2 linked regions of the Homo sapiens genome follow. The protein of the gene in region 1 interacts with the protein of each later gene in a biochemical or structural test. Each region holds a gene or a part of one and is shown in the gene's direction. Other genes may lie near its edges.

The links.
Region 2: the proteins of CDK19 (region 1) and WDR77 form a complex in vitro, tested with the Homo sapiens proteins (one study listed by BioGRID).

What each region holds. Positions count from the first base shown.
Region 1 is NC_000006.12:110,808,754-110,812,776, reverse strand, and holds part of CDK19 (cyclin-dependent kinase 19), read left to right. Parts: intron 1-4,023.
Region 2 is NC_000001.11:111,439,390-111,442,823, reverse strand, and holds the end of WDR77 (methylosome protein WDR77), read left to right. Parts: intron 1-62; coding exon 63-171; intron 172-694; coding exon of another isoform or gene 695-730; coding exon 731-799; intron 800-1,434; coding exon 1,435-1,594; 3' UTR 1,595-2,934; downstream 2,935-3,434. UniProt on the Homo sapiens protein: Non-catalytic component of the methylosome complex, composed of PRMT5, WDR77 and CLNS1A, which modifies specific arginines to dimethylarginines in several spliceosomal Sm proteins and histones.

The sequences.
Region 1 (4,023 bases):
GATTTTACACTCCGATCATGGTAGATTACAGTTTAGCTCTTTCTAGATTTTATTTTGGTTAACTCAGAAAATGCATAATGCTATTTTAGGGAGCCAGAAATCACATAGGTTACATTAAAGATAAATGATTCTGGTATATATAATGTAGTATATAACCAAAACATTGTTCAGGTCTTTAGAAGAAACATTAGAAGAAATAAAATATCATTAGAAAAGTTTAATACTACAGTTAGCAAAATGTTATTTCCCTTGAAGTATGACTTTAGGCAATATTAATTATATCACAAATTTATAAGAGGCTGGAAATGCAAGATTTACATCTGAGTTTTTCACCTTTAATTAAAAATATTCTCTGGGTCGGGTGCGGTGGCTCACGCCTGTAATCCCAGCACTTTGGGAGGCCGAGGCGGGTGGATCACGAGGTCAGGAGATCGAGACCATCCTGGTGAACATGGTGAAACCCCGTCTCTATTAAAAATACAAAAGGAATTAGCCGGGCATGGTGGCGGGTACTTGTAGTCCCAGCTGCTCGGGAGGCTGAGGCAGGACAATGGCGTGAACCCGGGAGGTGGAGCTTGCAGTGAGCCGAGATCCCGCCACTGCACTCCAGCCAGGGCGACAGAGCGAGACTCTGTCTCAAAAAAAAAAAAAAGTTATTTGTTCACCTTTTTGTTTTGCAGGAAGAGAGGCTTTTGACCCAACTCTCCTTTTTATTTAATATTTATACTTTTGAATATTTTTTGTAGAGACCGGGTCTTGCTGTGTTGCCAGAGCTAGTCTTGAACTCCTGGGCTCAAGTGATCTTCCTGTCTCAGCCTCCCAAAATGCTGGGATTACAAGTGTGAGCCATCATGCTGGACCTCCAACTCTCTTTTACTTTAAAAAAAAAAAAAAATCCGGTTTAAAAGTTGTTCTTTTTTTGTTTTTTCGTTTTACAGACAGGGTCTTGCTGTGTTGTTCAGGTTGGTCTTGAACTCCTGGCTTCCCAAAGTGCTGGCATTACAGGCTCATGCCACCACACCCAGCCAAATGTTACTCTTGAAGAGAAACAAGTTCAGAATATTTCTGAACTTTTTAATACAAGCAAGAATTCATAAAATAAATTTTCTTCATTATTAAGAAGTCGCACATGACAATTTATGGTTACAAATTTCAAGACTGCATTTTTCCAGTTAGAAACATTTAAAAATTTGATCGATAAAGGAATATTGTTAAAAAGTTCTTTTGTTGGCCGGGCGCCGTGGCTCACACCTTTAATCCCAGCACTTTGGGAAGCCGAGGCAGGTGGATCACCTGAGACCAGGAGACCAGCCTGGCCAACAAGACGAAACCCCGTCTCTTCTAAAAATACAAAAATTAGCCGAGCGTGGTGCCTTGCATGGCTGACACAGCTTACAGAGTTTGTTTTGTCAGGGTTTCAAATGAGTGGTTGATGACTACATAACTTAATGTATGTCATGAAATTCTTCACAATGAGTACATGTAGATGCATATAGCTAATAGGTACAATAGTATTTGCCTGTGTTTGATGGGTTTTTCACAATCGGTTTGTAGTTAGATTATTGTATTTGCATTTTTGTTGGACACTTACAGAAGATTAAAGATTTGTCAGTATCATCAGAGGATTAGAACTTTCCAAAGTTTTAGATCATCTAGTTCAATTTCCTCTTTTTACAAATGAGAAACCTAGAGCTTTGAGAGGTTAACTGTCATGCTCATAGTGTCACAGCAGAGATAGCCTGTAATCCACATCTAACTCAAGAGTTCTTGCATTTTCCTTCCTAATACCATGGGAGGAAAAACAAAAAAAGGCCATCTTACCTCCAGTCTTGATAACTTACTGTATAAACCTTTTTGCATGCCAAAAGTGCATTTATACCAAAAAAAAATATGGAAAAGGGAAATTATCACATATACAGGACATTTACAAAGTGGGAGTGCAGGACTGTAGATTCTACTACATGTAGCTGCTGCTTTTCTTTTTTCTTTTCTTTTTTTTTTTTGAGATGGAGTTTGCTCTTGTTGCCCAGGCTGGAGTGCAATTGTGCGATCTCAGCTCACTGCAACCTCCGCCTCTTGGGTTCCAGCGATTGTCCTGCCTCAGCCTCCTGAGTAGCTGGGATTACAGGCATGCACCACCACGCCTGGCTGATTTTGTATTTTTAATAGAGATGGGGTTTCTCCATGTTGGTTAGGCTGGTCTCGAACTCCCAACCTCAGGTGATCCACCTGCCTCGGCCTCCCAAAGTGCTGGGATTATAGGCGTGAGCCACCTTACCTGGCCATGCTGCTGCTTTTCATCTGTTTTTTTCTTCATCCTCACTGTCAACACTTTTGGCCATTATTTCTGATTTGGATAGTAGCTGGTTGGTCTCTCACTATAGTCCAAGATCCAAATTGCTGCTAGTGTCATTTTCCTATAAAATCAATCATGTCATATCTCTTTTTGGAAAGCTATACGTTTGCTATGGCTTATACTATCAGATCCAATCTCATCTCTTTCTCTTCTCTCCTTGCATGATTCATACTTGAGACTTAGATCCAATTTTAATTCCTTAGTTTGTCATGTAAAGACATTTACATTCAGACCCTGAAGTCTGTAGTCTTTATACCTGCCACCATTTCTTTTTTCCAGTTGCATTTAAGCTATATACTTCTGTAGCATTGAACTCGTATTTTCTGGTACTTAAGTCCTTTCATGTCTCATTTTCTTTGTTCTACATTCACTTTAGAATGGTGTTGCTGTGCCATTCTTCCCTCCCCCTTTTCCCTTATCCTTACAAACCTGTAAAACTCATACTTCAATACCCAACTCAAATAGCTTTCCTCCTTGAAGCCTTCTCTTAATCACTCGGTGTACTCCTCAGCTGTGTTTCTACCCCTTTGTTCTTACATATGTAAAGTCACTGTAAGTGATACTAATATGCCTCATAAATTACTAGCTGCAAAAGGATCATCATTCTGTCCAGTGCCTTGTACAGAGTTGGTCACATAATACACAAAATTATATTCAATTAAAAATGCCTTTAATTGGTAAAGATGCTCCACTGATTTTAAAAGCAGACCAAATTCCTTTAAAAACGCAAGTTTATTTACTTTTCTTAAAAAACGAAGTTTTTAGTAATTGCTTTGAAAGCCTGAAATACAGTAATGTTATATGAAATAGGTGGTTAGATGTAAATACTTCTAATGTATTTTTTCTAAGAAATGTACTGCTTTTCCAAACAGTTGATAAATTTCTTTTTTCATTTTTTTCACTTGAGACTGTCTCACTCTATCACCAAGGCTGGAGTGCTGTCGTGCAGTCGTAGCTGACTGTAGCCTTGAACTCCTGGGCTCAAGTGATCCTCCTGCCTCAGGCTCTTGCGTAGCTAGGACCACAGATGCACGTGCTGGCTAATTTTTGTTGTTGTTTTGTAGAGACGAGGTCTCACTGTGTTCACTGTGTTGCCCAGGCTGGTCTCGAACTCCTGGGCTCCAGTGATCCTTCTGCTTCAGCCTCCCAAAGTGCTGGGATTACAGACATGAGTCACTGTGCCTGGCCCATTTCTTTTTTTTTTTTTTGAGATGGAGTCTCGCTGTCTCCCAGGCTGGAGTGCAGTGGCGCAGTCTCGGCTCACTGCAAGCTGCGCCTCCTGGGTTCATGCCATTCTCCTGCCTCAGCCTCCCGAGTAGCTGGGACTACAGGCGCCCACCACCATGCCCGGCTAATTTTTTTTTTTTTTTGTATTTTTAGTAGAGATGGGGTTTCCCCGTGTTAGCCAGGATGGTCTAAATCTCCTGACCTCATGATCCACTTGCCTCGGCCTCCCAAAGTGCCGGGATTACAAGTGTGAGCCACCACGCCTGGCCCCATTTCTTTGAACAGATATTAGATATTGCTAAGGAAAATAGGCATATTTTTGAGAAATAAATATTTTCTCTTAGGCCAGCTCTTTTAGAATTGCTAGACTAGTAATCTGTCTTCTGTGCTTTTACTAGCTATTTTATAGAGATGCTTAGAAAATACCAGTATTTAAATAC
Region 2 (3,434 bases), on another chromosome or scaffold:
CAAGTCTTTGGCACAAAAGTCCATGCTCTTAATCACTATGACATGTTCCTTCTCTTCTACAGGTGATGAGAATGGGACAGTCTCCCTTGTGGACACCAAGAGTACAAGCTGTGTCCTGAGCTCAGCTGTACACTCCCAGTGTGTCACTGGGCTGGTGTTCTCCCCACACAGGTACTGTTCTTTGTCATCAGGGGCCTGATGGGTATAAATGGGAACCGTGAGGGTGTGTGTGTATGTTTTCAAAGCATTAGCTGATGAAGTAGTTCCTTAAAGCAGACAGTGTTCTAGCTGAGGTTTCGGAACATCGAAGATCTCTTAAGTGTGAAGTAGAATCCTTTGGGAGTCAAAGGATTTTTCAGATTAGATGGTTTCTGTCTGAAATGGCTAAAATGTGATTTCATTCCTGCCCAACACCCAAAATGGTTAATGTTGTGGGCTTCTAGGACTGTGAGATTGGAAAAGCCTGTGTTTCTGGGTTATTGCTGAAGCTATAGAGAGGGACCAGATGGGGTGGTTAGTTGCCAGGATGGTTGTCAACCCTAACTTTGCTTCATTTCCCTCATCTTTACTTGAAACTTTTAGTGTGGACTTGTAGTAGCCAGATTAGCCAAAAGTGGGAATCAGGCTGCCTCTCCTGGGTCACTTTACAGTGGCGGCAGGGCCGGCCCAGTTAAGGTTTTGTCTTGGGATCCAGGCTGGACCTTTCACAACCCTCTCCTCCATCTGATAGTGTTCCCTTCCTGGCCTCTCTCAGTGAAGACTGCTCACTTGCTGTGCTGGACTCAAGCCTTTCTGAGTTGTAAGTGTGAAGTGGAATCCTTTGGGAATCAGGGAAGGGGAGCAGTGGGTGGGCGAGTCATTTTCCTCTTCAGAAAACTGTGTTGTGCTTTTGGAGAACAGATTCTCCATCTGTATCCGAAGGGACTTGGTAATGGAAGCAGGCTGGCTGTTGACCCTGTCCATTCCTGGGGCACATTCACAACCCCAAGGACAAGCCGTGTCCTTGGTAGAGGGGGGTGGTAGGTGAAATTTTTAAGTCTAGCCCTCCAGCGCTCTCCCACAAGGGGGCGGCAGTCTACCCTCTCACATAAAGAACTGCGTATGAAATGCAGCCTGCTACAGGGTAAAAGGCAGCACCTGGAAGACCTGAATTGTACTTCCCTCCTTGCCGTGATTTGCTGCCTGTTACTGCCCCTCATCACTGTCTTGTTCTATCCAGCATTTCTTCATCTATGAAAATAGAAGACTGGATTGGATGACTGATGACATCCACTGTGGATAGCTACACTGCTATCCTGGCGATGAGGCCATACAGTTGGTGAAATGTGTGTAACACACCCAAAAAATGTGCCCCAGATGTGTTGGGTTCTCTTTTTTTCTCCAGGTCTGCTTTTCTTGTCTCTACTCTGCCCCGACTTTTTTTCTTTCTTCTAGGTTTAGAAGCCAAGCCCACAGAGACTTTGTGAGAGATGCGACTTGGTCCCCGCTCAATCACTCCCTGCTTACCACAGTGGGCTGGGACCATCAGGTCGTCCACCACGTTGTGCCCACAGAACCTCTCCCAGCCCCTGGACCTGCAAGTGTTACTGAGTAGATTGGATTTAAGACAAAAAGCAAGTCCCCCATGAGTGTCCACTTCTTTGCCCTGCCCTCTCAGCTTGTGAGACAACACAGGAGCCTTCTATAGTATGTTGATATGCTAGATCTGTGCCGTTAATAGGCATCGTCTCTCAGCCTGAGGGAGGCTGGATTCTGGGTTCCTGTAGTCACAGGGAGGAAAAGCTTTCTTAAAAATGGACATGTATGTGCGTGTGAGTGTGTGTGTAGATTTATAGTTTTTGGTAGTGGCAGGAATAAAAAAAATCCATCCTACATCTTCCCTAAGCACTGCCTCTCTCTCACCCCCCAAAACAAGTTGACGAAAGGGTTTTATGTAGCTGTCTATGAGGAATTGGCCGTGTCTGGGTGGGTTATGGGATGTGGGCATCCCTGGGTTCTTGGAAGCAGCTCTTATGCTACTCATAGAGATGGGATTGACTTTATTTTTTTATAGTGCTTAATTCACCATTATGAGAAATGCTTCCAGTCACAAAAATGCAGCCCAGCTCACTCTGAGGAAGAAGCAGGACTTGGTACGGTTTTACACAACTCCTTACCATTAAACTGAATCAGAAATCCATTTTCTGGCTGAATAAAAAGTTTGGCTTGCCTGTGTAATGCCCACTCCCTTCCCCCTGGCTCCCTAGTGATGGGACATATATGAGAGAGAAGTGTTTTTCTATCATAGACACCATAGGGGAAAGTTTGGGGATGAAGGAGAGCTTAAAGGTGTTTCAATTAAGTTAGAAAACTGACACAGGCTGTTGAGAATTCTTTGCCACTTTTCCCACCCCAAAACAGCATGGGGCCTGACATCTTCTGCCCTGGTCCCCTTTCTCTTGATGTGGAAAGTCTGAATGCAGTATTTATAGACTTCTAAGGTTTTAAAATCCAGTATCAAGAAGAAAATCAGAAATACTGGTTGGTGAAATAAAGAGTTTAGGCATTGTTGGCCTGTCTTTTTTGAAGCATGTGTGTTATGTGTAGTTAGATATATTTCACTTATGTGAGTCATCATGGTGTTGGTCTTGTAGCCCATTATTTTTCCTGTGCTTCCCCAGCTTCCCAAAGTAGCTAGTTAGAACTTAAGGTAAATATTTATTCTTGGGTTGGTGGAGTGGATATTGCCAGTTAGGAGTCATGGATCAATTACTGATTATATTGAAAGTAAATATAATCAATTATGTACTTTTGAGCTTTGCAGGTTCAATTTAGGTAAAAATCACATTATGAAACTGGGAAAGTCTGAAGGAATATGGGCAAAATATTTCTCAGTAAAGCTTCCATGCTTCACCCTTGACATGATTACCCTTGAGTAAAACATGGGAATTTGTAGTTGTGTGATCCTCTGGCGTTGATGTGGAGTAGGAATAAAGTCTTGCATCATTTTTATAATGTGGGAGGAAATAGAATGGGTAGGTACAATCACTTAAGTTCTGCCTCTCGAAGATAAAACTTTAATTTTGTGGACACTTAGAGAAAGTAAGGGGTGGGGGAGCTTGAGGTGAGTAGGAATTTGCATAGCCCTTTTCTTCCTGGACTTAAGAATGATGGAGAAAAAACTCAGTGAAAGAGATAAGGAAGCAAATGTGTGGAAATGTGTGATAAGGAAGGAAATGTGTCAAGGTGGTTACAATATGGAAGGGAAGCATAGGTTTTTTTTTTCTTTTGTTGAGATGGAGTTTCACTCTTGCTGCCCAGGCTAGTGTGCAGTGGCATGATCTTGGCTCACTGCAACCTTCGCCTCCTGGGTTCAAGCAATTCTCCTGTCTCAGCCTCTTGAGTAGCTGGGATTACAGGCTAATTTTTGTGTGTTTAGTAGAGACAGGGTTTCA